Homo sapiens: one gene and its partners. The protein of the gene in region 5 interacts with the protein of the main gene of each other region in a pairwise test. Each region holds a gene or a part of one and is shown on either strand. Other genes may lie near its edges.

Region 1 (4,805 bases), on a different chromosome or scaffold from region 5:
CCCACATCAAACCTGCTTACATGTCTGCGTCTCCCACTCAGCCAGGTGCACTCTGGGTTTCCGGGAAGGTTCCTTATTTCTGCATCCTCAGTTCCTAGCATGGTGCCTGGCATTGAAGCTCTCGGTAAGTGTTATGAAACAGAAACAATCCGCAGAAGCTCCTTCTCAAGCCAGTATCTAGCCCTTCATTATGCACAATCCCCAGCCCCTGGACTTCCTCTCCTGAAACCTGAAGTGCTGGGAGATCTTGCCAAGCCCCTCTGCAGCAGAGCAGGACCCTCATAGCACTGTGCCTACCAACACTCGCTAAATACCTGTTAAATACCAAGGAATGTGCCGTGGGCTGGGTCTAAATCCCAGCTTGGACATTCTCAAAGTAGTCTGGACTTCAGTTTCCCATCTCCAAAACAGAGATGATAGTCGCTCATCTCTTAAGATCCTCATCAGTCCTGGCATTTGGGAAAGCTGTCTGGCAGGCTGTAAATGAGCTGGGCAAATCCGAGTTACCAAGAGGTCAGGGCTTTTCCTCAGCAGCTGATTCAGGGCAAGTGACTAGACCTGGCCAATGCCACGTAAGGCCTTTTACTGTATTGCACTTGGTTTTTCTCAAGCCACTTTGAAGACAAGCAGCATCTTCCTCAGAAGGAACCTGGGGAATGAGTGGGGCCTGGACCCAGTGGAAACTCTAACACACCCACGGCCATTCACAAGTGTTTCCAGTGACTAAGGGCCACACGAAGCACTTAGCCGGATCCTTCCTGAAAACTTCTTCCAGAATGGCTCAGCCTGCAGAACTGCTCTTACCGAAGCCATCCTATTCTGGCCATCCTCACCCCCACTGTCCCACTTCTCTGGGGGTCAAGCCTTTCCCTCATCCCCGGGGCAGGGCCCTAGGCTTCCCCTCTCCCTCAGCAAAAGACAACACAGGCAGGTTCTGAAGCATGCATGTCAGTTTATTCACCATACTTCCCCCAGGAACCCTCTCACTGGTCAGGGAATGAAAGAATTGAAGGGATGGGGGATGTACAGGTAGAAGTAAAAGGCACACCTTGAACGTGCTATGATGGGTTGAAAAGAGGTTGGTCTGAAATTGACGAGCCTCCCATTTCAGAGGCTCAGGAAGTTTGTGCCCAGGAAATATGCACGCCTTCAGCCAAATCCCCTGCACCTGATGGAGCAGAAGCAGGCACTGCCTACCCTGGCCTGGCTGTCTGCTGGCTCTCACGCCAGGCATTTTCTGGGCCTGGCTGTCACAGCTAGTGGGATCACTAACGCTGCATGTCCATGGCATCTTGGCCTAAACAAACAGGTGAGGCCTGGCTCTGTCTACACAGCAGCAACAAAGGTGACTGATCAGGAGGAGATCTGTAGTGCACAAATAATGGGAGAGGGTGTGCTTGTCAGCATTAGACAATGACTCCCAAATGTAGTGTAAACCCACAAGGAGGGGGCAACTCAAGGAGGGACACATGACTAAGCAAGAAAATGTGACTCTGTGAGCTGACCCGGCTTCTGAACAAACCTAATACAGTCTATGCTCACAGTGTGTTTCAGCCCCCTTGACTCTAAACCGTCACAGAAGCAGAAGGAAGAGGAAGTGGTGGATTGCCCAGCTGGAGCCTGGGGACTGTTACGACTGTCTAGATCTCTGCGGTCATAGGGCGTCACAGCCTCCTCAGACCCTGAGCCTGGAATGCGGGGGAACACAATGTAGATTCCCAGGAGGGCTGTCCCCAAGACCCTCTCCCTGCCCGCCCAGCTCCTCAGGCCTCCTCTTCTACCGCTTCTTCTTAGTCTCTTTCTTGGGCCTCTTGTTCACAGAAGGAACAGCAGCCTTGGGCTTCCTCGTCACCTCAGCACTTCTGGGCTCAGACGGTTCAGCCTCCTGTGAGGTGATAAAAAGGAGAGTCCTGCTTAGATGGATCAAGCCTGACGCCAGCAAAAGGAGATCACATCTGAAAGCAAAGAAGCATGCCACAGAAACACAAGAGATGGAAACTGTCATTCCCGGGACCTACCACCCACACGGATGTGGGACTGCCCCGGAGCATCGTGGCTCTCAGTGAAGAATAAAGGAAGCCCCACGGGGAGGGAGCAGCTTGTGGGGTCTCAGACGCCCAGGTAGAACCTGGGATCCTTCCCTTTCCAGCCAACTGACCTTGTGTGAAACTCACTTCCCCTTTCTGTGTCTTGGTTTACTCACCTGTGAAATGGAAATAGCCACACCCGCCTTACAGGGCTGATGTGAGGAGGCAAAACTACGTGGAAAGCACCCAGGAAGTGCCAGCTGCACCCAGTGACTGGCCGATCACCTCGTGCCAGGGACTGGACAAAATGTGGGCGAGGAGCTGGCTATGGGGCAGACCCACTGTGGCTTGCCCTCCTCTGGCTGCCATTCTTGTCCTCCCATTCAACCCACAGAATGCCAGGACTGGGAGGGGTGCAGAGGGCCAGCCGGCAGGTGGGCAGTCCCACACTGTGTTCTGCGGAGCCTGTCAGAGGTGCCTCTGTGGGGGAGGGCAGAGGCAGCCTCGGGGCAGAATTCCAGACTCCCTGGGCGACAGGAGCAGCTCTGATTTTCAATCTATTTCATACACTGTGATTTGTCCCTTGTAAGATTGAAATGAAACAAAGTTCTGCTGCTAAGGAACGAAAGGTTGAAACCCACAGATCTAGCCCTGGCGTTCATTGTGCTGATAAGGAAGGGAGACTCCAGGGAAGGGACACAGCTTGGCCCAGCCACTCAGGCTCATGTCAGAGAAGTATCTGGAATAGGCTCAGTGTGCTCCTATCTAGTGTCCTCTCCTCCTCTGGGTGATAACTTGCAGTGTGCCGTGGCCAGAAAGGACGGACGTCAGAGAGGCCGGGCTAGCCCAGAGAACGCCAACCACAGCCCACAGGCCTCGTCCAGGCCACAGACTTCATCTGGCCGGCAGTGTTTATTTAAAAATTTAAGCCAATTGGGAGATTTCCCATGAAATCTGGATTCCTAGATTCTCTTGAAACTAACCATCCGGTGACAATGGCCCTGCATTCCCTCATGGCAGTGAGGGGCTGAGGAGGCGCTGCCCCTTTTCAGGTGCCGACCGTGGCCCCCACACCCTGCCGCCCCCAGCACTATGATTGGGAAATGTTTCTCAGTGCCCATGTTCTTTATTGAGAAATGGGAAAATAAGAAGCAGACTAAGACTCCTGGGAGGGGGGACACTTCCAGATGAGAAAAATACCCCTCTGTGTTTCATTTCCCAACCCCGGCTTCCAGCTCACTTTACTCCCTGACCTTCCCTGCTTGCCCCATTGGCCCGTGGCCCAAGCCTCAGCCCACCCTACAGAAGAGGAGGGCCCATGCAGGGAAGGGCAGTCCCTGCCTCGGATCTGATCCAGAGGCCTGTCAGCTCCCTCCTATCGGCCAACATCGTCTCCCATCAGCCAGGCGAGATAACCAGATATGAAGAGCCAGCCAGGTCCCAGGCCCCCAAGGAGTGATTGTCCCAAGATAACTGGAGGGCTTCCCCTCCCCAGCCAGGCCTCTCACTGCAGTGCTGGATTCCTTCGGCCTGCTGAGCCTCCTCCCACCAAAAATCAAAATGATCTGAAGGTCCCCCTACTCTGTTTATGTAACTTGGCCAAAACAAAACAAAACAAAATTTGCAAGGCCTGCCTGGATCTCTAGGAAGGAGTCTGCCTTCTGAGCTCAAGGCTGGGGGCTCCTCCAGTTTCAGTGGGGCTCAGTTCAGAGACCACAGGGACAGTGAGACCCAGTTGCCGCCCCAGTGCCTCCCTCACTCCACAGGCCCTGTCTCTAGAGCCTCAACCATTCTGGCACCTCCCAGACCTCTCCCTTGATCCAGCTGTCTGCCAGACAATCAGGACTGGCATCTCCAAGGCACCTCCAACTTAACTGTCCCAGACCCAGAAGGCCCGGCCCTCCTCCCACTGGTGGAGCAACCAGAGACCCGGTAACCTCACCCTCTCTCTGCTCCCCACTGTCCAGTGGGTCACCATGTCCTGCTGACATGACCCCCTCTACCTCTTGATTCTGCTACTCTCTCCAGCATCCAATTCCCCCTTCAGTTCCGCCCACAGCTAAGCAAAGTGCCTGCTGTCTCTGTCCATTCCTCATGCACCCACGAAAGGAACTATTCTAAAGTGCAGGTCTGACCACTGCACCTTCCACCTTAAAGCTTCCAGTGGCTGTCTCTGGAATGGCATCTAAGAAAGGCCACCTCTCCAGCCTCACATGGGCTCCTCTTCATCCCTCACACTGAGTCAGGCCCCAGAGCTTCCGCTGGTCACCTTCATCAACAGGAATACCTGTTTCCTTGGCCACCCGGCAAACTGCTCCCATGGTTTGGCCCTGTCCATGAATACACTCCTACTCACTGTCTAGCCTTCCTTCCCTGCTCCTCCTTCCAGCTGGGGGCAGCCCCTCCTCCCTCCTCGGGCCCCTAGGCACCCAGGAACCTTATAATGCCACCATTCTTTTTAAGACAAGGTCTCACTCTTTTGCCCAGGCTGGAGTGCAGTGGCTCGATATTAGCTCATTGCAACCTCCGCCTTCCAGGTTCAAGTGATTCTCCTGCCTCAGCCTCCTGAGTAGCTAGAATTACAGGCACCCGCCACCACGCACAGCTAATTTTTTATATTTTTAGTAGAGATGGGGTTTTATCATGTTGGCCAAGCTGGTCTCAAACTCCTAACCTCCAGTGATCCACCCGCCTCAGCCTCCCACAGTGCTGGGATTACAGGCGTGAGCCACTGCGCCCAGCCCATAATGCCACTATTATTTTCCCATAGTTACATGT
Region 2 (4,199 bases), on a different chromosome or scaffold from region 5:
AATCACTAGTTTCTTGTTAGGAGCTGGTAGTAGTGGAGCTGGGACTGAAACCTGGTTCTGTTAGGACTCTGGGGTCTGTATTCTTTTAGCTCAAAAATTTAAGACAGGAAGTTTCCCCCACTTTTGGTATATACACTGTTACTAAAGTATACATTTTAAAAATTCAGTTTATTTTGAAATATAGTGAGGTAGCAGCATTTTTTAAAATCTCCTTTTATTGGCCAGGCGTGATGGCTCACACCTGTAATCCCAGCACTTTGGGAGGCCAAGGCAGGCGGATCACCTGAGGTCAGGAGTTCAAGACCAGCCTGACCAACATGGAGAAACCCCGTCTCTACTAAAACTACAAAAAATTAGCCGGTCGTGGTGGCGCATGCCTGTAATCCCAGCTACTCAGTAGGCTGAGGCAGGAGAATCGCTTGAACCCAGGAGACGGATTGCAGTGAGCTGAGATCGAGCCATTGCACTCCAGCCTGGGCAACATGAGCGAAATTCTGTCTCAAAATAAGTAAATAAATAAGCAAATAAATAAATAAGATGTCTTTTTATTAACTCTAAGTGCTGGAACTGGATTAGCATTTATAACCACAAATGTTAGTGAAATATAAACTTTTTCTCCTTTGATACAATGAGAAGGAAACAGGAGGGGTTACTTTGCATTATTTGATGTATGTCGGGAAGCCCGGCCATTAGGCAACATATTTTTAAACCACCTTAATTTCCTATATCTCTGATTAATCTGGAAAAAGAAACAGGTTGAAGGTGATCTGTAGGGGGTTACCCGTATCTGTTAGAATTGTTTGTTCAAATGGATTTTTAATTTCTAGTAATTTATTGTTGTTTGCTCCTCTCTCACGCCTAACCCAGATACCAAAAATCTAATTTTCTGATGACATCATTATATCTCTATAGCAGCTGGCTTTGAGAGAGGATTCTAAGTTCAGTGAGATCAGCAGCAAACGAACTTAGAAGAAACAGAAATCTTGTAAATATTCTTTTTTTAAGAGCATAAAATTTGGAAATGATTTTAAAGCAGTATAATTTAGAAATTATATATATATATATATATATATATATATATATATAAAATTCAGAATTATTCCGTGGATTTTCTGTGTCTTTAAAATGCAACACATAATGATATTAGTGTTTTCTGAGGTTCTGGATGGGGGCCGAGGAGAGCGTAGCTAAGCATGGCCTATGTCAGTTCTTCTCTGCAAGGATCAACTCTTAAGAGGATGGCTCCTCTGCCCTCCACCACCTTTTCTTTCCACTTCCTTTGGCATTATTCTTGGTCTGTTTTCACCTCTGTTCTCTGCCTGCCTCATCTCTTTTATTGAGCGCTTCCCAGTCTTAGACCTCTAGTCAGAAACCAATGGGAAAGATTTTGTTACTGTCCAGCACCCTACAGTGACTGGGATGGTGGTGGGAATTCCATGATGACATAGATATCTGTTGTTTCCTGAGAGACATCATGTGTTGTTACACAATAAAAAGGTTTTTCACTGAAAAAAATGTTTAAATCTGTCTCTAGTGCCTCACTTCAAGAATTCAAGAAAACTCACTAATAAACATGTTTAATGCTAATTTAAGATGCGACCATTTAGAAGGGATCTTCAACTATCTGAATAATGTTGGAGCAACATGTGCCATTGTTTGGTTTGGCGAATCCTATAATGAATCCTGTAATATGTAAAGATGGCATTGCGTGCACCCATTCTTAATGAGATTATATTATAATGGGAGTATTTCCATCCTTCACTCCTACTCAAAGCCTGTTCTTTCTCTTCCTTTTGCAATTCCCTGAAAGCTTTCTGCCTGCTGTTAGGTTATTGCTGCCACCTGACGTCTCAAAATAAAATTGCCGTGGGTTTGCTTTTCCAAAAGATTCGCACTATTCTGCATTTTATGGAAATAACTATTTGAGAGCAACAGTTTTTTCTCTATACTCCTAAATAAGAGCATTCTGAAGTGATTACTTATGGTGGGGAGATTATGGGTATCATTCATTCCACAAGCAAAAGGTGGAACTAATAGTACAGGAGGGAATGTAGGAGTCCTAATCCCTAGAATAGGACAAATCGCCATTGTGACCTTGGTGTGTACTTCACCTCATAAAATTGGACTCAGTGCTCTTAACAGCCTTATTCCAGCTTTAACATTGTTTTATTGTGTGTACTTTTATTTATGAAAACATAGCCCTTCTCCGTGATACTATTTACTTTTTTGGACTAAAGTTCTCAGTGTTGAACAGGTTTTCTCTCTTTTTTTTAACAGATACATAATATTTCTACATATTTATAGGATACATGTGATATTTTATTACATGCATAGGATGTGTAATGATCATGTCAGGGTGGCTGAAGTATCTGTCACTTTGAGTATCATTTCTATGTGTTGGGAACATTAAAAGACCTCTCTTCTAGCCATTTTGAAATATACAATACATTGTTGTTAACTATAGTCACCCTACTCTGCTATTGAACATTAGAACTTATTCCTTCTATCTAACTATATGTACCCACTAACCATCCTCTCTTCATCCCTCACCCACCCACACACACCTGCCCCACCTTCTGGTATCTATTATTCTACTCTCTACCTCCATGAGACCAACTTTTTTAGCTCCTACATATGAATGAGAACATGCAATATTTGTCTTTCTGTGCCTGGCTTATCTCACTTAACACAGTGACCTCCAGTTCCATCCATGTTGCTATAAATTACAGGATTTTATTCTTTTCATGGCCAAATAGTATTTTATTGTGTATATATACTAAATTTTTCTTTATCTATTTATTTGTTGATGGACACTTAAGTCAATTCCTTATCTTTGCTATTGTGAATGATGCTGCAATAAACACGGGGGTGCAGGTATCTATTTGATATACTGATTTATTTTCCTTTGGATAAATACTAGTAGTGGGATTGTTGGATCATGTGATAGTTCTATTTTTAATATTTTGAGAAACCTCCATACTGTTTTCCACAGTGGCTATACTAATTTACATTCCCACCAACAGTGGATAAGAATTCTGCTTTCTCTGCGTCCTTGCCAGCATCTGTTATTTTTTGGCTTTTTAATAACAGCTACTCTAACTGGGGTAAGATGATATCTCATTGTCATTTTGATTCAGATTTCTGTGATGATTGGTGATGAGCATTTTTTCATTTATCTGCTGGCCATTTGTATGTCTTCTTTTGAGAAATATCTATCCATATCCTCAGCCCACTTTTTAATAAGTTTTCTTGTTTTTTAAACTATTCAGTTGTTTGAGTTCTTTGTATATTCTAGATATTAGTCTCTTGTCAGATGGATAGTTTGCAAATATATTCTTCCATTCAACAGGTAGTCTCTTCACTCTGTTGATTATTTCCTTTGCTGTGCAGATGCTTTTTGGTTGAATATGTTTTCTTATAGAGCTATGTTAAATAGATGTTCACATTTTCATTGTGTGAATAAATAGCTTTGATAGCTTTCCTTTGCTCAATTATCAGAGACACAGCTGAAGACTCTCTATTGTTTGTTTTTGTTTTTGTTTGAGACAGAGTCTCCCTCTGTCACCCATGCTGGAGTGCAGTGGCGTGATCTCGGCTCACTGCAACCTTCGCCTCCTGGGTTCAAGCAATTCTCCTACCTCAGCCTCCCGAGTAGCTGGGACTACAGGCACGTGCCATCGTGCCTGGCTAATTTTTTGTATTTTTAGTAGAGATGGGGTTTCACCGTGTTAGCCAGGATGATCTAGATCTCCTGACCTCGTGATCCGCCTGCCTCAGTCTCCCAAAGTGCTGGGATTACAGGCGTGAGCCACCACGCCTGGCAACTCTCTATTGTTAATACAGTCATAACCAGAATAACACTTCTCTGCTTGCTTAGTTATTCAGGGACTTCCTTTGCTTAACTTTGTACTTATAGTACATGTAAAGATTACAAAGTCAACTGTGCTGCTTGCAAAGTTCCTAGATTTTTTTTAAAAAAAATGAAATCTGGATTTTAAAAGATTTATAATTACACTGTTCAATTTTCCTTTGCATTTTGAAATATAGCATTAATATTCCCATAGGCTAGAGGGAAATCTGAAGAAAGTTTTCTTGATATGAAGAGTGAAGGGAGATAGTTCACTGTACTTCATGAAATTTTTTTTAATTCTGATGAATATTACAACTTGGCAAAGCCTTTCCTGGAAGATTCTGTTATC
Region 3 (4,199 bases), on a different chromosome or scaffold from region 5:
TTACTTTTTAATGTGGCTATTAGAAAAGTTAAAATTACATATGGGGCTCACATTTATATTTTGATTGGGCAATGTGGCTACGGATACTTTATCACAACCCACTATCACACTGGTCTGGTTAATGATCTGGTGACAGCTAATGAGCTAGTGAGAATTGACCCTTGGAGTAAATTGTTTCTATGGGCAAATACATCTTTCTTTCTTTCTTTTTTTGAGACAGTTTCACTCTTGTTGCCCAGGCTGGAGTGCAATGGCGTGTTCTCGGCTCACTGCAACCTCCGCCTCCTGGGTTCAAGCGATTCTTCTGCCTCAGCCTCCTGAGTAGCTGGGATTACAGGCGCCCGCCACCACACCCAACTAATTTTTTTGTATTTTTAGTAGAGACGGGGTTTCCCCATGTTGGCCAGGCTGGACTTGGACTCCTGACCTCAGGTGATCTGCCCGCCTCGGCCTCCCAGTGTTGGGATTACAGGCATGAGCCACTGTGCCCAGCCAGCAAATACACCTTTCAAAGCTTCTCAGCTTTTCTAAGAAAAACACTAAAAGCAGAGACTTACCAATATACTCTTCTAGATCAATGAAACCATCAGCATTCTTATCTATATCTTCCATTGTTTCCTAAACAGGAAAGAATAAGAAGAGACTATTAAGTTGGTCTCTGAATTTGCCAGAAGAAAGTAAAGTATCTAGTTTAGGTAAACATTTATTATTCATTAAACACACTTGTACATGTATGTATGTATGTATGTATGTATGCATGTGTGTCTGTATGGTTAAAACCATTTCTAGCCAAGAAATGGTAAAACATGAGCAATTTCCTATGCTTCAATCTAAAATAACTGAGTCTTCCTGACAGAACACTGACACTGCTTAATGACAAACTATCCCATCAAGCCCATGATGATCTACCTGGTAGCCTTAGTCATGCTAAAGTCACACTAACAGGAGATGTGACCAGTGATTATGTGTTTAGCTATAGATAGTCTATGTTGTCAGTAACTGCCTTCTGTGAGAGTTCTTTAGTATCACTGTTATTACTCAATGTCTGACTATTGGTCATGGGATATTTTAAATAATGGGATTTCCCCCCATTCTTACAATATGAAGCTACCAATGAAATGGCAAAATACATTATATGACAGAAGGTATTATCATACTAAACAGAATGCCCAAGGCACCTTGATCAAGGTCACAGAAAAACAGTGACAGACCTTGGATTCTGAATCTGGCCAATACTTATATAGCATATACAGTGATATGCTATATAGCATATATATATATAAGATATGCTATATAAGGCTAAAGGGGAAAGACAGAATAAGCCACAAAAAGAGAAACTGAGTCCCTGTTCAGAATCCTTCATCTCACCCACCTGTACTACTATATCTTTCATGTAGTCATACTCCTCAGGGTGCAGGAAAGCTGTGAACTCCTCCTTGGTGGCAATGAGGTCTCCATCCTTGTCTGCCATTTTAAACCTCCGCTCATCTCTAACCATCATCTGTTTATAGTTAAATCCATCATCAGGATCTGGATCATCTAGAAAACAAAAATTTAGGTCAAATCTTAAAAGACTTTCAGAAAACATGAAAATGTGTGGGGTGGGAAATCAATTTCCAATAAAGATAAAACCATGCAAGGAAGAAATAATTGATGACACAGGTAAAACTGCAGCAGTACAAAGACATTTAGTTTTGGGCTACAGCTCCAGGCATCAGATCTCAGAGTCAGCTCCAAGTTCACATGGAACTCTGGCTCCTGAACTATGTAACTCACTGTTATGCTTCACTATTGGTATTAAGGCTACTAGAAGGCTTGAATTTTCTAGTTACATCTGGAAGGCAGTGGTGGCTCTCAAGTCCCATACTGCCTGAGTTTGAACTCTACCATTTTCTAGCTGTTTGGCCTGTGTCTTGGTCTCTTTTATCTGTAAAATGGAGCTAGCAATGGTGCCGGCTTCATAGGATTGTTGTAAGGTTTAAATGAGAAAATATATCTAAGTGCTTAGAACAATGCCTGGCACATAGTTGGCTTTCAACAAATGTCAGTTATTGCTACTTTTATTAAACATTAGGATCTCATTAAAAAGATAGAAATCAAAGGCCTTCTACCTCACATAATGGACACTTGGATTCAAGCAATAGAATGCCACCACTTTGAAGGTCACATTCTGTTTTTTTTCAGTCAACGCAGAAATCTACCAAGAGTGACAGGTATTGTTCATCCCCATTTACGTAAAATTCTAGAAAATGCAAACTAACTTAGAGTCACAGAAAACAGATGAGTGATTGCCTAGGGACGGGGGAATGGCGAGAATGAGAAGGATTACCAAGGGACATGAGGAAATGTTGGGGGGGTAATGGATATGCTCATTATCGTGATTGCAGTGGTGGTTTCACTGGTAAATACATACGTCAAAACTCATCAATTATGCACTTAAATACATACAGTTCACTTTATGTCAATAATAACTTGACAAAGGTATACAAAAAAAAAAACCCTTAGATTACAACCAAATTGAATTTGGAACTACCCATCTGTTATGACATCGAGCTACACAAGCAGCAGTTATCTAGTCTCTATATAAGAATATAGAAAAGTGAAATTTAGTTTTTTAAGCTGAAAAAATGTGGCGTTAACTGCAGAAAATAAAATTCTTTTTCAATCTGCGTTCCTGTATAAACCAAATTAAGATAACAGACATGAAGATATTTTAAAAAGTAAAAGACACCACATTAATGGTAAGAAATTATTGTTCCTGCAACATATTGATTACATAAAAAGGATATGACACTGCTTTTATAAAAAAGACCCACAGGGCCCCTTTAAGAATAACATCATTACTGCTGACCTTTGAGATTGTTCAGTCTTTCCATACTTTAAGCACAGTTTAAAGAAACAAAAACAAAACTACTGTACTATTTTGAGAGTTGAGCATTTTGAAGCTTCATTTTTTATTGAGTGTCAAAAATTCAGTCAGACAGCTTAACGAGTCATAAGGCTTTGGGATCCTGTGTACACACACACACACACACACACACACACACACACTCAAAGCCATAATAGGTTGAGATGGAGAACGTAAGGCAAACAAGCCTTTCTCAGATACTAAAGTGTCTCTTCTAAACAAGGTTTCAGGACTATGTAACATAAATAAGAAACATAACAAGACAACTTATACTTTAAGACTAGATTCTTACATAAGTGCTCTCCTCCCCTCCTTGGGGTAAAAGGTAAAAATGGTGACTGGACTCAAATAGCCTAATAGCAACATGCACATATATATATAAGGAGGGAAACAGGAAGATACAATTTTTTTTTTTTTTAATTTATAGTCAGGTCCTTGTTCTGTGTGGCCCAGGCTGGAGTGCAATGCAATCATAGCTCAATGCAGTCTTGGACTCTGGGGCTCAAGCAATCCTCCTGCTTCGGCCTCCCAAGTAGCTAGGACTACTGACAAGTATTACCACTCCTGGCTAATTTTTAATATTTTTTTTGTAAAGACGGGGTCTGGCTTTGTTGCCCTGGCTGGTCGCGAATTCCCGGACTCAAGCAACCTTTCTGCCTCGGCCTCCCAAAATGCTAGGATTATAGGCATAAGCCACTGTGCCTGTCCAAAACTTTATTTTTAATGACAAAACCTATTTTCCTATAGCTCTGCTTGGAATGCTGTATTTATCCTAAGCACCAGTTTTGGCCCTAGCTGGCCTGTATACAGCTTTAGGTAGGCTCTTGATCTAGTTTTGCTATAGGCAGGGTAGATCTCAGTATTTCATATTTTCCTTGTGGCAGAGACAGTGTTAACCTTTCTCTCATGGATAGCGGATTCATTGAGACAGATTTTAACTAAGAGCTATGATGATTTATACCTGAACTCCAAATTGAATCAAGAACACACAGTAACAAAAACTCCTCACTTCTCTAAGCCGACTCATGACCCCCTCAGTGCTGTCCACCCTCATGCCTCTGGGGAAAGATGCCTTATAAAGACATTGCTTCCCAGCCAGTGCTTCAGCTTATGCAGTCTCAGGCAGCAGAAATACCCATTACGTTGAATCATCTGCCTTGTGAGGCAACAGAGCTCTCAACAGATTTTTATGCACATAATCATACACAGCACCGAAGAATCATTCTGGGCAGCAAGTGAGTGCCTAGGTCGGAGCTGAGATTTATTTACACACCATTTTGTTTAGATCACC
Region 4 (4,199 bases), on a different chromosome or scaffold from region 5:
GTGTCTACGATGACGTTAAGCTTTTGCATGCAAACCAACATTCACCAGTCATGGACCTAGCCTCAGGGAGGGTCCAGTCTGGATTGGGGGACAGGAACCCCTTGAGCCAGTCCTCCCAGGCACCCAAGAGCAGAAGAGGAATAACATGCAAAGTACAAAACCTAAGAGTGAGCCAGGCGTGGTGGCTCACTTTGGGAGCTGGGTAATCCCAGCACTTTGGGAGGCTGAGGCAGGTGGATCACCTGAGGTCGAGAGTTGGAGACCAGCCTGACCAACATGGAGAAACCCCATCTCTACTAAAAATACAAAAAATTAGCCGGGTGTGGTGGCACATGCCTGTAGTTCCAGCTACTCGGGAGGCTGAGGCAGGAGAATTGCTTGAACCCAGGAGGCAGAGGTTGCAGTGAGCCAAGATCGCGCCATTGCACTCCAGCCTGGGCAACAAGACTGAAACTCCATCTCGAAGGAAAAAAATAATAAAAATAAATAAATAAATAAACCCACCTAAGAGTGAACACACAGCAGAAAAAGCAAAACACCAGGTGGGGAAAAGAACAGAACAGGAGGCCGGGCACGGTGGCTCACGCCTGTAATCCCAGCACTTTGGGAGGCCGAGGCAGGCGGATCACGAGGTCAGGAGATTGAGACCATCCTGGCTAACACGGTGAAACCTCGCCTCTACTACAAATACAAAAAATTAGCCAGGTGTGGTGACAGGCACCTGTAGTCCCAGCTACTAGGGAGGCTGAGGCAGGAGAATGGCGTGAACCCGGGAGGCGGAGCTTGCAGTGAGCCGAGATCGCGCCACTGCACTCCAACCTGGGCGACAGAGCGAGACTCTGTCTCAAAAAAAAAAAAAAAAAAAAAAAAAAGAACAGAACAGGAAAGTCGACGTATCTGGAAGGTATCTCTCCTAAACTCACAAGAATGAAACCCAGCTCCTCCCAACACTCCCTTCTGAGCAGACAAAATGGGCCTAATCAGCATCATCTCCACTGAAGGCAACTTCAGGCCCTTCCTCAATGCCTACTGATGCTGACTCCTGGATGGTTTCTGTGCACGTGTTTAAAAACAAACACAAGCTGGGCGCGGTGGTTCACGCCTGTAATCCCAGCACTTTGGGAGGCCAAGGCAGGTGGAACACCCGAGGTCAGGAGTTTGAGACCAGCCTGGCCAACATGGCGAAACCCCGTCTCTACTAAAAATACAAAAAAATTAGCCGGGTGTGATGGCGGACTCCTGTAATCCCAGCTACTCAGTAGGCTGAGGCAGGAGAATCGCTTGAACCTGGGAGGTGGAGGTTGCAGTGAGATCGCACTATTGCACTCCCATCTCAAAAAAAAACAAAGAAACAAACAACACATTTGAGATACCCTGTGTCCAAAATAATGGAAGGGATAGGGATGTGACCTATGACAGCAAGGAAAAGGCTGAAAACCAGTCAAAGCAGGTAAGACTAACAGGCAGAGTCCCCAGACTTTCTGTCAGACGAGCGCAGCAACTGACTAGTGCCCATAAGGGCAACCCTGGAGCCATCTAGGAAAGGGAAGTTCTCCCTCTCCCTATCATGCCACTGTTCCAGGGACCACTCCTGAACTCGGGCAGGCAGGGTTAAGCATCTCTGGGCCAACTCTGCAGATGCTTTGTGGCCCATCTGGCTCAGCCCAATACCCCAAGTCAGCCCATGAGGCTTCTGCTTGGATCCCAGCCTGGCATCTCAGCACTGCCAGCACACGGGGCCCACTCTGCTCTTACGCCCCCCGAACCAAGTTCAAGGACCTTGAAAACAACCCCAATCCAGGGGTAACATGTTGCCACTTCTCACACTTATTCTGCTTGGACTATACAGTGAATTTTTTTTAATGGCAATGTAATTCCTATACAATTCACCCTTTTAAAGTGTACAAGTCAGTACATAGTGAATTTTTAAATGAAGATGCAGTTCCCATACAACTCAGCCCTTTTTTTTGTTTTGAGACAGAGTCTCGCTCTGTCGCCCAGACTGGAGTGCAGTGGCATGATCTAAGCTTACTGCAGCCTCTGCCTCCCGGATTCAAGAGATTCTCATGCTTTAGCCTCCCGAGTAGCTGGGACTACAAGCGTGTACCACCATGCCCAGCTAATTTTTGTATTTTTAGTAGAGACGGGGTTTCACCATGTTGGCCAGGCTGGTATCAAACTCCTGACCTCAGCTGATCCACCCGCCTCAGCCTCCCAACGAGCTGGGTTTACAGGCATGAGCCACTGCGCCTGGCCACAATTCAGCCTTTTTAAAGTGTACAATTCATGGTTTTTAGTACATTCACATATTTTGCAATCATAAACTCTATCTAGTTCCAGAACATTGTCATCATCCCAAACAGAAACCCCTTGCCCATTAAGCAGACACTCCCCATCCCCCTTCATCCCAGCTGCTGGCAACCACTAATCTACTTTCTGTCTCTATGGATTTGCCAACTCTGGACATTTTGTATAAATGATGCCTTTCAAGGTTTGCATCACATATTTTTAAAATGTGGCTTGGAATGTCTTGCTCACTTGGAGCCAGGTGCCGTGCTAAATGCTTTATACGTTTCTACTCATTTAATCCTAATAACCACCCCATGAGGTAGATAGTGTTGTTATCCCTATTTCACAGATGAGGAAACCGTAGCACCGAGCAGTTAGGCAAATGGGACAGAGTCATAGCAGCACTGGGCAGGTACGCTTTAAAGCCTACACTCCATGTGTAAGCTGGACCTCTCTTTAAGGGAGCAGGCACTTGGTGGCTTGCCAACATGCTCATCAAGTTTATTCTTTTATTCTTTTGTTTTGTGTGTGTGTGTGTGTGTGTGTGTGTGTGTTTTAAGACAGGGTCTCACTCTGTCACCCAGGCTGAAGTGCAGTGGTGCGATCTTGGCTCATTGCAACCTCTGCCTCCCAGGCTCAAGCAATCCTCCCACCTCAGCCTCCCGAGTAGCTGGGACTACAGGCGCATGCCACCACGCCTGGCTAATTTTTGTATTTTTTGTAGAGATGGGGCTCTTGTTATGTTACCCAGGCTGGTCTCGAACTCCTGAGCTCAAGTAATCTGGCCACCTCAGCCTCCCAAAGTGCTGAGATTACAGGCATGAGCCACTGCGCCCGGCCCCCTCATCATGCTTATTCTTGACCACTTCTCACATTCCTATTACCTGCATGATCCCTGAAGGTATCTGTGTTCATGCCTTCTGCTCTGGTTATGCAGGTAAACCTGAGTTCAAATCCAATTCAGCTAAGTGTTAAGTTCCTAAACCTCTCTGGGCCCCATATTTTTCATCTGAGAAGTGGGTTACCAAACAGTTACCTGTAAGACTCTATGTAAAAGGGCCACTATGGACATCAGGAGGTGATATGGGTCACAGTGCCAACAGGTCGGGGTAATGTGGCGAGGCAGAGGGCCTGGCATATAGGTGTTCCAGAAATGAAGCTCCTGTTAAGATTACTACCCATCCACATCACTGACAGTCTTCTCCTTGCTGCTCAAAAGAACAGCTTCCCATTTCTGGAGGCACATACAGGCAGCATACCTGTCCTCAGAGGACTTTTTGGAACTAGTAAAATACACAGCAGACTGAAAAGCCCTCTGTAATTAGAACAAAGATAACTTGTTAACCGCCCTTTAAACTCCTGGGAGCCTAAAGCCAGCCTCTACTTGCTACTTGCTAGAGCCTGGAAGGATTTCTCAGATTATGCAGAGTTGCTTCTGTGTGCTTTCTGAGGTCTGCCAGGGTTACTCAGCCACATCCCACTACTGAGGACCAGGACCAAGAATAAAGTGGCTCTCAGCAGGCCTACCCAAAATGCCACTCCAGGGCCCAAGAAGAGCCAACTGGTGCCTAACTGAGGCACTTGCTTTGTGTTTGTCATTTTGACGCAGCAGCTCTGAGACTACCAGGATCCCAGAGAAGACCACCAATGCAAAAATCGTATTATCTTATTTTGGACAAAAGATCCAGAAAACTGTTGGCTGGGCACGGTGGCTCACACCTGTAATCCCAGCACTTTGGGAGGCCGAGGCAGGTGGATCATGAGGTCACGGGATAGAGACCATCCTGGCTAACATGGTGAAACTCTGTCTGTACTAAAAATACAAAAAGTTAGCCGGTGTGGTGGCTGGCGCCTGTAGTCCCAGCTACTCAGGAGGTTGACGCAGGAGAATGGCGTGAACCCAGGAGGTG
Region 5 (4,199 bases):
ACAAAAAATTAGCTGGGTGTGGTGGTGTGCACCTGTAATCCCAGCTACTCAGGAGGCTGAGGCAAGAGAATTGTGTGAACCCAGGGGGCGGAGGTTGCAGTGAGCTGAGATTGCACCACTGCACTCCAGCCGGGGCAACAGTGCAAGACACTGTCTCAAAAAAAAAAAAAAAAAAAAAAAAAAGACAGTTTCCCTCTGTCGCCCAGGCTGGACTGCAGTGGCAAGATCTCAGCTCACTGCAACCTCTGCCTCGCAGATTCAAGAGATTCTTCCACCTCAGCTTCCCAAGTAGCTGGGACTACAGGCATGCACCACCACACGCGGCTATTTTTTGTACCCTTTTTTTTTTTTTTTTTTTTGAGACGAAGTCTCACTCTTATCCCACAGGCTGGAGTGCGATGGCACGATTCAGCTCACTGCAACCTCCACCTCCCAGGTTCAAGCGATTCTCCCGCCTCAGCCTTCCGAGTAGCTGGGGATTACAGGCATGCACCACCACACCTGGCAAATCTTGTATCTTTAGTAGAGACGGGGTTTCTCCATGTTGGTCAGGCTGGTCTCAAACTCCTGACCTCATGTGATCCACCCGCCTCGGCCTCCCAGAGTGCCGGGATTAGCAGCATGAGCCACCATGCCTGGCCAGCATCTTCATTTTTTAAAAAAAGGATAATAATAGTGCTTTCATCATAAAGTTATGTGACATTTTAAAAAAATATAATGCATCATGCCTTATAAATCATGCCTGCAATAAATATTGGCCATTATGTCATTGTCATTAACAGCATTTGCAAAGGTTCAAAAAGGGGAAGAAAGAGCCAGTGATATTTGAGGGTAGGGGAAGAGACAATACAAACTGGCTGAAATGCAATGAAAACAGGAGAAAAGGCAGGTGGAAGCACATCCTGAAAGCTTTATTAGCTGTGCTAATTCAGCAGTCACTAGCTACATATGGCTATTAAGCACCTGAAATGTGGCTACTTCAAACTGAGGTATGCTTAAGTGTAAATTACAAAATATATTTCAAAGACTTAGTATTTCAAAATGCAAGATATTTTATAGTCTTTATATCAATTGCACCTTAAAATATTTTAGACATACTGGGTTAAATAAAGCATATTAAAATTACAATAGCCAAAAGGTGGAAGCAACCCAAGCGACCAGCAACAGATCAATGGATTTTTAAAATGTGGTACATACATATAATGGAATATTATTCAGTCATACACAGTAAATTCTGGCTGGGTGCGGTGGCTCACACTTGTATAATCCTAGCATTTTGGGAGACCAAGGGGGCAGATCGCTTGAGCTCAGGAGTTTGAGACCAACCTGGGCAACATGGTGAAACCCTGTCTCTACAAAAAAATACAAAGTAGCCAAGCATGGTGATGTGAGCTTGCAGTCCCAGCTACTTGGGGGGCTAAGGCAGGAGGATCACTTGAACTTCAGGAGGTGGAGGCTGCAGCAAGCCATGATTGTGCCACTGCACTCCAGCCTGGGTGACAAAGTGAGACCTGTCTCAAAAAAAAAAAAAAAAGTAAATTCTGACACATGCTACAACATAAATGAACCTTGTGGACGTTATACTAAGGGAAATAAGTTAATCACAAAAGGCCAAACACTGTCTTATTCCACTTATATGAAATACCTAGAGTAGTCAAATTCAGAGACAGAAAGAAGAATGGTGGTTGCTAGAGGTGGGGGAATGGGGAAAATGGGGAGTTACTGTTTAAACGGTCCAGGGTTTCAGTTTTGCAAGATGAGTTCTGGAAACGGATGGTGGTAACAATTGTACAACAATGTGAATGTACTTAATGTCACTGAAGTGAACCCTTAAAAATGGTTAACATGATAAATTTTGTTATGTGTGAGTCACCACTATTGAAAAATTGACTTCAGTCCTTCCTTTTGATTAAAGTGGCTAATAGGAAAATTACATATGTGGCTCATACTGTTTTTTGTTTTTAAGAGACCAAGTCTCATTCTGTCACCACAGCTGGAATGCTGCGGTGCAATCATAGCTCAGTGTAACCTCCAAACTCCTGGGCTCAACCTTGCTGGACTAGCTGGGACTACAGGTGTGTGCCACCACACCTAGCTAAATTTTTATTTTTTTGTAGACAGGCTGGTCTCGAACTCCAGGAGGTGGGGGCTGCAGTGAGCCATGATCACTGAGCCATGGTGCTCAAGCAATCCTGCCACCTTGGCCCCGCAAAGTGTTGGGATTACAAGCATGAACCACTGAGCCCAGCTCACATTGTATTTCTATAAAAAATAAGTCATGGTAAAAATTTCCAATGAGAAGTGTTTTGATGAACAAGATATATTAACAGGAAGCCCTAATACCAGGGTAAGCAAACTTTCTGTTACGGGCTAGACAGTAAATATTTTTGGCTCTACCAGCCACATGGTCTATTCTGAAAGGAGCTATAGATAACACATAAGCAAATGGGCACAATAGATTTCGACTACCAGTTTGCTGGCCTCTGCCCTAAGGCACCCATTATAAGCAATGGCTCTTAAATTTTCATAAATTTTGTGAGCCAGTTTAATAACGGTATCTTGAAATCTGCCACAGTGAGAATATTTACATCATGGAAATCCAGCAAACACTACAAATCAGTGTTTTTCCTGAAGAACGGGTTGATAAACCAGCATTTACCAACAAACCACTCACTATGTAATGAATTAACTTCTCTCCTATACATCTAAAATTATATTCATTATGAACCATCTTTGAAAAGAAATGGATAGCTATTCATATCACTTTCTGTGCTCTGTGGTTCAGATGAGAATCTCCAGCTAAGAAAGGTGGTTCTAGAAGAGTAATGTTCCAGGCAGAGAAGCAAGAGTGAACATCATGAAGCAGTCAAGAGTTGTGCCTGGAGAGTGGTGACCTGGGGGGAACAGCTTAAGAGGAAGCTTCCACAAAAGGACTGGGAGCTACCAGATTATGTACATACTACACTCAGTAAAGGTTCAACAATAAGTAGTTATTACTGAATATGTATTATTGTACATAATGGACTAGATTCATCTGTAAATAATTTATTGAGCCCTAGGCTCTGGTAACACAATGGTGAACAATCACAGCCCCTCTCTAAAGAGAAGGAATCACATAAATATACAATTTTTAGTTGTGATGAATTCTTATCAAAAACAGGCTACTGTGAGAAATCCAACAGGGGATCCCAATCCAGTCTGGACAATCAGAAATAGATACTACCTGGAGAAACTGACCTTTGCATTAAGATTTAAAGATGGAAAAGGAATGGGCAAAGAGTGTTCTTGCATTCTAGGTAGCAAGAACAAACTGTACAGAAGTCCTCAGGCAGGAAAAAAAGTATTAACAGGTCAGGGAACTAGAAGGTCAATGTAGTCAGCCAAGCAAGCAAAGAAAGAAGGCATCTGCAAAAAATGGAGAGGGCATGGAACCGTATTACACAGGGCCTCGCTACTCCATTATATATTCTAAGACCAACAGGGAGCCATTAGCTTTACACAGAGGGTGGCATGCTCTGATTAACGTTTTTCAGAGATCACTCTTGGAATGGCTGGTGGGAGAGTTATAGAAGTCAGGCAACTGACCAGTAGGCTACTGCAGTTTCTAGGCAAGAGGTAATGGCAACTTATTGGAGCCACTACCCGATATTTTAAGTACGTAATCTATAAAATACGCCACCACAGAAATTTTTGCTCTCAGGACACCATTTTACAACTTCAGAACTCCAAAGAGTTTTGCTTGTTTAGGTTATAGCTGTTGATATTTATAATATTACAAATTAAAACTGAATAACCTTTAAAAATAAATTCATTTAAAAATAATACATTATATATTAATAAAAATAACATCCTTATGAAAAATAACTATTTTCTCAGTGATAAGAGTGGCATTATTTTAAATTTTTGGAAATCACTTTAGTCTTGTAATAGAAGACAGCTGGATTTTCACATCTGTTGTCATATCCCACACCTTAAAGACTCTAGCCAAGTGCACTGCCCAGTTTTGAGAAAATTAGACTGAAAAATAAAAATAACATCTCAGAATTACTATGAAAATAGTTTCATCTCATGGTACCCTTAACAGGGTATGGGGACTCCCCAAACCACAGTGAGAACTACTGCTCAGATAACAAAAAGCAAATTTGTCTAGCAGGCTGTCCAGTTTTCCTCAGAGTGCCCCCAGCAAAAATAATAATGAA
Region 6 (4,199 bases), on a different chromosome or scaffold from region 5:
TATCTTGCACTTTATTTACTTTTATGAAAAATTTTATTGCTGCAAACCCTCCAGTAAAAACAATTAGTTGCCAGTTTTAAATTTTAGACCAGCTTGGCTGGGTGGGGTGGCTCATGCCTGTAATCCCATCACTTTGGGAGGCCAAGGCGGGCAGATCATTTGAGGTCAGGAGTTTGAGACCAGCCTGGCTAACATGGTGAAACCCTGTCTCTACTGAAAATAGAAAAATTAGCTGGGTGTGGTGGTGCATGCCTGTAGTCCAAGCTACTTGGGAGGCTGAGGCAGGAGAATCACATGAACCCAGGAGGCGGAGGTTGCAGTGAGCCAACATCGTGCCACTGCACTCCAGCCTGGGTGACAGGCCGAGACTCTGTGTCAAGAAAAAAATAAATAAATAAAAATTTAGGCCAGCTTTTCTCTGCTACTTACCTCTTCTATCTTTTACCAGATGTATTTGGAGAATTTAAACTACTTTTATTCTAAGTAAAAACTTAATGAGAAAGGAAAATGGATTCTAAAATCCAAATATAAATTGCTTTTGTATGATCTGTAATTTTAAATTAACCATAGCACACTCTTTTGAAGGGATAATTGAGAACTGACTTATTAATAAAGACAGGAAGGGAAAATGTCATGTCATAGTGTATAAATGGAGATTTTGATGTTCAGTTCATCTATGTTTTGTTTAGATGTCCCTGGTAGATTTGGGAAAGAAGCTTTTAGAAGCGGCACGAGCAGGTCAAGATGATGAAGTTCGTATTTTGATGGCAAATGGAGCTCCCTTTACTACAGACTGGGTAAAGAATGATTTTAATATTGTGTGTTCTTTTTCCTTCTCATTTTTGAGTTTTTGCAGAGAAAAATGTAGTCAGTATTGTGTTTATAAGTGGTAAAAAGTTATTATTTTTGCAAATGTGTTTATTATTTTAGAATTATAACTGTCCTAAAAGAAGTGGTTTATATTATTTTCTTTGATATTGGACAACCTTATCCAAATATTTCATCCACAAAGAGTTTTTCTTTCAAACTGTGGAGTGCATTAATGTGGCATGAATATAAAAATGTATCTGCTTGGGATTTAATTTAAAGGCCTTATAAATAGCACAGGTAGAATTTATAATTCAGAAAGATACTGATAAAGATTGGAGTTAGTGTTAATAGTCACTCCTAAAAGAAAAACAAGTTTATGTTTCAATTATTACTTGTAAAACTGTTGCAGACATGACGAAAGAGGAAGAAAGGAATGGGAATGAGATCTTGACAACTATGGAAAGAAGGTAGTTGTGGGGAAGGCAAAAAAAAATAACTCTTTAATTCTGGGGGCAAATAAAAAAGTATTGTCTTGTGGATATGGAATGCTAGGAATCTGAATTAACCTGCCCATTGGTAACAACTAAAAATTCCAGATTTTTGATTTTGCCGTTTTTGCCTTTCTTTCTCTTTTTACATTTTTCATGAAAAAACAAAATTTTTTATTATAGAAAATTTCAAATATATATCAACGATATCCCTGTAATACCCTTTACCCAACTTCAAAAATTATCAAATCATGATGAATATTGTTTCCTCTATAACTCTGTCTACTGTATTATTTTTTGTTCTGTATTATTTTAAAGCAAATTCCAGGGACCATATCATTTTATCCATAAATGTTTCTTTAAAGAATAAATAAATCTTTAAAGAATAAAGACTTTTTGATGAAATATTTTAAAGAAAGTCTTCTTAAGTACACTGCTGAATTAGAAAGAAAGAGATTATCAACCTGAAAAACTAAGTGAAGGCAAGAACCCAGAGAAATTTTACCCTAAAGAACATTAGGTGAACTCACACTTGTCTGGTGGTTTTTCCACCTCACTGGCTTGGGGTACTAAAGCTAAAGACCTGAGAGTGTTCATGGAGAGAAGTCTGATAGGAGATCTTATCTCATAATTCTGGAATCCCAAAGAGCTGCACCTTCAGTGTAGGGATAAAGCAGGAATACCCTGTCCCTCCTCCTGTCTGCTCCTGCCCTTGCCCCTGTTGCCGTGATGCTGCAAAGATAATAAGCTGATGTGAACCAAGACATCAAATGGAGAGAGGAAAACAATCTGATGGTGAGAATTTGGAATCACAAGGCATCCTTTTTACACACTTGCAGCCTGAACTCATAAATACTTGTGTAGTCTAAAAAACTGTAAACTGAGAAATGAATTTGAAGTGATCTTTGGACTAGGGATTACCCCAGGCTCTTGACAGAAGCAAATGAATATCTGCTCTGGAGGAACCTGCCTTCATCCCAGGCTTCATATCCACAAATGAAATTCAAAGGAAAGTGAGCAGTCAGAAATAACTAAACACATGAACACATGCCAATTTGGACAGTAATCTGCTAAAACAACTGTCAACAGAAGCAGACCTATAAGGACTTGAGATAAAATTTTAGTAACAGATTAGAAACAGCTAAAGAGAAAATTAGTAAACTGAAAGGTATGAAAAAAAAAATGATCCAGACTATGTCACAGATAAAAATAGATAGAAAATGTAAAAGAGATGTTAGGAATCATGAAGGATCATGTGAGAAAGTCTAACATCTGATCATAGATCCACAAAAAGAGCAAAAATAGGGATGAAATAATTCAAAGAGGTAATTGCTGAGAATTTTCCAGAACTGATGAAAGATGGCAGCCCACAGATTTGAGTAGCCTAACAAATCTCCAGCAGGATCAATTTAAAAACTAATCTATATCTAGATATATCATAGTGATGCTGTAGTACCTCAAGACAAAAAGATCTTTTTTTTTTTTTTTGAGATGGAGTCTCACACTGTTGCCTGGGCTGGAGTGCAATGGTTCAGTCTCGGCTCACTGCAACCTCCGCCTGCCGGGTTCAAGTGATTCTCCTGCCTCAGCCTCCCAAGTAGCTGAGATTACAGGCACCCACCACCAAGCCCAGCTAATGTTTTGTATTTTTAGTAGAGATGGGGTTTCAATATGTTGGCCAGCTGGTCTTGAACTCCTGACCCCGTGATCAGCCCGCCTCGGCCTCCCAAAGACAGAAAGATCTTAAGAAGGATTAGTATCCATAATACATAAGGAATTCCCATGGGTTAGCAATAAAAAGACAAGGCAATAGAAGACTGACTGGATATGGTGCTTTACCAAGGAGAAAGTTTGATCAATAAACATGAAAAGATACTCAACTACATTAAAATTGGGGCAAATGCAAAGTAAAATCATGAAATACTATTATATATCCACCAGATTAGCAAAAACAGTTGAGCAGTACCAAGGCTTGGTGAGGAGATGGTGGGAACTCTCAAATATTTTTGGTGGAAGTATGGAATTGGTATAATCGTTATGGAAGACAGTTTGGCAGCACATAGTAAATTTGGAGATGTGCATAGTATATGATGTAGCAGTTGGGCTTCTAAGACTATTCCCGAGAGAAGACTTGTTCATGTGCCTGAAACATATACAAGACTACTGTATTTAGCAGCAACATTATTCATAATAACACAAAAACTGGAAACAATCTAAATGTTCATCAGTAGATTGGTTAAATTAATTGTGGTTTACTCATTCAATGGAATATTATAGAACACAGAAAATTAGTAAGCTATACTTACAGTTATTAACATGGTGAATCTCATGAATACAGTGTCAAGCAAAAGAAGGCAAGTCACAGAGAAATACATGCAGTATAATTCTGTTTAAATAAAACTCAAAACAGGCAAAACCAAAGTATATTTTTTAGGGATAAGTGATACAAAGAAAACTAAGTAATGCTTGTCACAAAATTCAAAATATTAGTTACCTCTGGGGCTGGGGGAGGGGCTTGTGATCAGGGAGTGGCATGTGGGAAGATTTTTTTTTTTTTTTTTTTGAGACAGAGTTTCGCTCTGTTGCCCAGGCTGGAGTGCAGTGGCATGATCTTGGCTCACTGAAGCCTCTGCCTCCCGGGTTCAAGTGATTCTCCTGCCTCAGGCACCGAAGTAGCTGGGATAACAGGCGCCCACCCTCACACCCAGCTAATTTTTTATTTTTAGTAGATGAGGTTTCACCATGTTGGCCAGGCTGGTCTCGAACTCCTGACCTCAGGCAATCCACCTGCCTTGGCCACCCAAAGTGTTGGGATTACAGGCGTGAGCCACTGCGCCTGGCCAGATTTTAAATTACTGGCAGTGTTTTATTTCTAGACTATGGTGTTGATTCACAGGTGTT
Region 7 (4,199 bases), on a different chromosome or scaffold from region 5:
GTCTACAGTAGCCAAACATGAATATACTTTGCGGACCATTGGTGACTTCCTGGTGCTCGATACCTCCAGGATAGCTTTGACCACACCTCAGATGGAGGCAGGTACCTAGTAAGGCAGAATTGTATCTACTATAATGTATTTTGTTGTAACACAATGTTATGCACAAGCAAAATAACTCTCCAGCCACACCCATGGTTAAGTGTGATTGTGCAAATATGAGATTTTTTTTTAAAAATTGTCTCATGTTAAGTGGAATTATTAATGATGATATAAAGGTGAACTCCTAATTTTGAAAAGAAATGTGATACTGATGAAGCTTAACGTCACTCACTAAACACAATTCAGTTTTCTACAGTTTATCTATGTCTACCTATTGTTTCGCCAGTGTCTTTATTCCTTAACATCTATTATTATTATTGTAATTATTATTATTATTATTTACTCCAAGTGCTAGAAAACTTTCTTGCCACAAACTTACGTGGAGGTGGCAACTTAGAAAATATAAGAAAAAGTAAAAGAACTTTGACCTAAAAAAAACTTTATAATTAGCTATTAGATTTCTACAATTTCAGAATTAAAAGGGACTTTAGGATCATTTAATCCCCAAAATACCAAGGTTATGTAATTAGAGCAGCTATTCAGTTAAGTATGCTGATAAATTTAAATTTCAATGAATAAACATTATACAAATCTAAAAATATATAATACAATATTGATGTCATGCCCACTATGTTACTTTTCTGTTTAATGAAATGAAATTACATTATTTAAAATCAAGGATTAATACTCAAAATTAGGGTTCTGTCAGGATCACAGAATTGTAGTTTAGCCAACTCCTTTATTACACAAGTACGAATAAGAAAACTGATTCTCTTTGAGCAAAGTGTCTGATTCTAAATATATTCCACTAAATTTTCAGAGATTTCTCTTCAAATTGGTCAAGAAAGTCTATGCATTAAAAACAAAAACAAAAAACAGACACCATGACTGTGCAAACAGGCTCTCAGGTACACGGCATGCCTTATTGTCTCTCGAAGTCCCCCCCATACGTTCATCCTGTGAGATATATTATAGCATCTATTACTGTGATAACAGAATTAAATAATCAACATTTAATAGTTATGGGGTATGTCATAAGTCTTTAGAACATAAGAACAATGAGGACACTCTACTTAAAAACAATTACTACCACAACAAAAACCTGTTACTTCACATACTTGATAGATTAGTGTTTAAGAGTGCAGGGATTGGTCCAAATCTCACTCTCCCATGTACAAACTGCCTGATTTGAGATGCATTTTCTAACCTTTATAACTTTCAGTTTCCAAATCTTAAAAAAAAAAAAAAAAAAAAAATAGAAGCCTGTTACTACTGTCACTACTACTAATTCCTGCCAAAGCCTTAGGAGAGGCAGTGCAGGTATCAAACTCTGCATGAGCCTGGAGTAAACCTGGGGGCATAGTTGGTAACTACTATTGCTACTACTATTCCTAATATTAATACCGCTCTGGCTACTGCCATCACTACTTCACTTATGAGTGCTCGAGTTTCTATTCACAGTGGTCCTTTGGTATCCAAAGGGGATTGGTCCAGGCCCCCTGTGGATATCAAAATTGGGTTGCTTATATAAAGTGGTATGGCAGTTATATACAGCCTACGCACATCCTCCCAAATACTTTAAATCTTCTCTAGGTTACTAAAAATACCTAATAAATGTAAATGCTATGTAAATAGTTGTTATACTGTATTGTTTTTTATTTGTATTGTTTTTTATTGTTGTATTGCTATTTTTTATTGTTTAATCCAAATACTTTCAATTAACAGTTGGTTGAATCTATGGATGTGGAACCTGCTGATACGGAATGTCAGCTATATTGATTTTCTTGAATTCCTGTAGCTGTCTGAGGCTCCCTCATGTTTATTTCCTAAACTCTCTTACTTATCTGTATTCAAAAATAGAGGTGCGATGAAACTAAGATGGGTGATATTGTGTTGTTCTATCTTTCATATATCAAATGGCAGTCAATGATCCACATTCAGTGAAACTTGGAAATATAGGTAGCCAAAAGAACACACGTATTCCTAAGGTTGATTTAATATTGCAGTCTTTAGTAGTGGGGCTGCTAGGATAATATAATCAGTATTTAGTCAGTTCAGAGAGTTCCTATTGCAGAATTAGAGGGAAGGAACTCCAAGGAAAACGTGGTTCGAAACTTAATAGCATCTCTTCTATCTAGCTGTGTACTTAAAAATTCCACTCTTGGGTCCCTGTGCCTCTTCTACTATAGCAAAATGAAATGTTGGCAAAAATATTCTGTGCTTACCACCTACAAAGATGCATTCCTTCTCCTATTTTTAATGCTTGAAGTGTACAATTTCCAGTGTATTTTAGTCTCTGATTTTGTGAGTTGGTGCCCATCACAGGAAATGCATCCTCCAAATTACAGTCCGGTTCACCACTCTGCGCCAAAACAGTTTAACTGAATAAAAACCACCACCCAATAATTTTGCAAAGAGTTACACAACCGTGTTCTATGGCTGTATCGGATGAGGTGGAAAGAGGGGGAAAGTGTTTGTTTTTTTGATTTTTCCCCACCCCTTTCTTCTTGTCCTATGAAGCTGTCATGCTTACTCGTTCTCTTCCAACCGCTTAATGAAATTTAAGAAAACAGTGTTAAAATGTTTCAGTTTCTGTTCATTACTAAACAGTGATGAACATACTATAAAACATATTATAAATACTTTAGTGCAAGGGACAAATAAAGAAGAAATATAAGCATGAGAGAAATTTTTCATTTTACTGGTGTCACGGTAGACCTGAAAATAAAGATTTTCTATCACTACCCTCTTACCTGCTGGAATTCTTCCATCTGTGAGAAACAGGTCGCTGAATCCTTCACCCAACAGCCTATCTATTGGAGAATCTCGCCCCAAATCATAATCACTGTCTCCTGCCTCACTGTCACCACGGCCACTGTCTTTCAAGCTAAATTTGTCCATGTCTTGAAGGGCATATCTGGAAAGATAAATCACAAAAAAAAATTACAGTTTTTACTCTTCAGCATTTATGTTGAAACTTAATAGGTAACACAAGAATAATTCATACCTGTAGCTCCTGGAATATTTGTTTCCTCGAAAACTTGGTCTTGGCTGATATTGCCCCTGGTGAAGCATTGAAAGAAGCTGAGAGACCTGCTGGAAACCAAATAGACAGAACTGATTCCCGGAAACAAGCCTCCAAACACTCACAATCTTTAAGCAAGAAAAACAGTTGCTTGCTATTTCAACTAAGTAATTGAATATATTCTCTCTATTTAAAAGATTTGCAAATGCTGGACTGTGGCGGACCACGCAGCCAGCTACCAACTATAACTAAAATATATCTCAGAGAGATTTGGATGACCTAATACAACTGACTTTTACTTTGTGAAAGAAGACTCCCTTTCAAATAACTGATTTATTTTCTTTATAATTCAGACAAAGTGACCACCTGTAAAAATACATGGAAAATACTGTAAAATACAACACTGCAATGCATGTAGTTTAAAAAATGTCAGGAAATCTTCCAAACTTGGACAAACATAGCATGCATTGAAATAGAAGTCTGAAGGCCTCAGTTTTTTTATTTGTTCAGTAAAGACTATAACCTTGAAAATAAAGCAAGTCTCTACTTTTTGGCTTCCCATTATTTTAATCTGGGAAGCAAGGGGACTCTAATTACATAGTCCTTTGTGACCTTCACATTTATTTTTCAATATTACACATATTATATGAAGTTATTTACTTAAGGAAAACTAAAAACAGTATGCTAAAGTGTGCATCTTTGCTACATATTCACAATGTAACTTGTATCCTACTTAATTTGCACAGTATTAGTATTGTTACTTATTAATGAAAACATTTAAGAACTAGTAAACACAATTCCTGAACACTAACACCTAACATTGCAATGAATTGATGCGGTTTATGATCTTACCTCAACAGCAGGAGTGGCGTGGGTGAGTTCTAATGAGAAATTCTCTGGCACGTGGTTTGATGAGATTGTCACCAAACTGTTGAGTGACTGGTGACTGTTGTGACTCTGCCGGCTGCCCATCTGCCCTCTTTCTAAGGTAGGAGATGAAGATGGAGACGATCTGTGATGAGATCTGATGGGCAGAGTGCCATTTATGGTAGGCACCAATGTGATGTCCCCTTTG

What was found.
Region 1: the proteins of UBQLN1 (region 5) and MANBAL interact in binary tests that used the Homo sapiens proteins (3 or more experiments, as listed by UniProt).
Region 2: the proteins of UBQLN1 (region 5) and HSD17B12 interact in binary tests that used the Homo sapiens proteins (3 or more experiments, as listed by UniProt).
Region 3: the proteins of UBQLN1 (region 5) and CALU interact in binary tests that used the Homo sapiens proteins (3 or more experiments, as listed by UniProt).
Region 4: the proteins of UBQLN1 (region 5) and CD99L2 interact in binary tests that used the Homo sapiens proteins (3 or more experiments, as listed by UniProt).
Region 6: the proteins of UBQLN1 (region 5) and GABPB1 interact in binary tests that used the Homo sapiens proteins (3 or more experiments, as listed by UniProt).
Region 7: the proteins of UBQLN1 (region 5) and PCDH18 interact in binary tests that used the Homo sapiens proteins (3 or more experiments, as listed by UniProt).

What each region holds. Positions count from the first base shown.
Region 1 is NC_000020.11:37,313,388-37,318,192, reverse strand, and holds the end of MANBAL (protein MANBAL), read right to left. Parts: intron 1,886-4,805; coding exon 1,778-1,885; 3' UTR 933-1,777; downstream 1-932.
Region 2 is NC_000011.10:43,809,318-43,813,516, forward strand, and holds part of HSD17B12 (very-long-chain 3-oxoacyl-CoA reductase), read left to right. Parts: intron 1-4,199. UniProt on the Homo sapiens protein: Catalyzes the second of the four reactions of the long-chain fatty acids elongation cycle. This endoplasmic reticulum-bound enzymatic process, allows the addition of two carbons to the chain of long- and very long-chain fatty acids/VLCFAs per cycle.
Region 3 is NC_000007.14:128,756,211-128,760,409, reverse strand, and holds part of CALU (calumenin isoform a precursor), read right to left. Parts: intron 1,540-4,199; coding exon 1,373-1,539; intron 619-1,372; coding exon 558-618; intron 1-557. UniProt on the Homo sapiens protein: Involved in regulation of vitamin K-dependent carboxylation of multiple N-terminal glutamate residues. Seems to inhibit gamma-carboxylase GGCX. Binds 7 calcium ions with a low affinity.
Region 4 is NC_000023.11:150,891,760-150,895,958, forward strand, and holds part of CD99L2 (CD99 antigen-like protein 2 isoform 1 precursor), read right to left. Parts: intron 1-4,199. UniProt on the Homo sapiens protein: Plays a role in a late step of leukocyte extravasation helping cells to overcome the endothelial basement membrane. Acts at the same site as, but independently of, PECAM1.
Region 5 is NC_000009.12:83,697,395-83,701,593, forward strand, and holds part of UBQLN1 (ubiquilin-1), read right to left. Parts: intron 1-4,199. UniProt on the Homo sapiens protein: Plays an important role in the regulation of different protein degradation mechanisms and pathways including ubiquitin-proteasome system (UPS), autophagy and endoplasmic reticulum-associated protein degradation (ERAD) pathway.
Region 6 is NC_000015.10:50,306,289-50,310,487, reverse strand, and holds part of GABPB1 (GA-binding protein subunit beta-1 isoform beta 2), read left to right. Parts: intron 1-689; coding exon 690-797; intron 798-4,199.
Region 7 is NC_000004.12:137,525,626-137,529,824, forward strand, and holds part of PCDH18 (protocadherin-18 isoform 1 precursor), read right to left. Parts: coding exon 3,977-4,199; intron 3,196-3,976; coding exon 3,107-3,195; intron 3,017-3,106; coding exon 2,853-3,016; intron 1-2,852. UniProt on the Homo sapiens protein: Potential calcium-dependent cell-adhesion protein.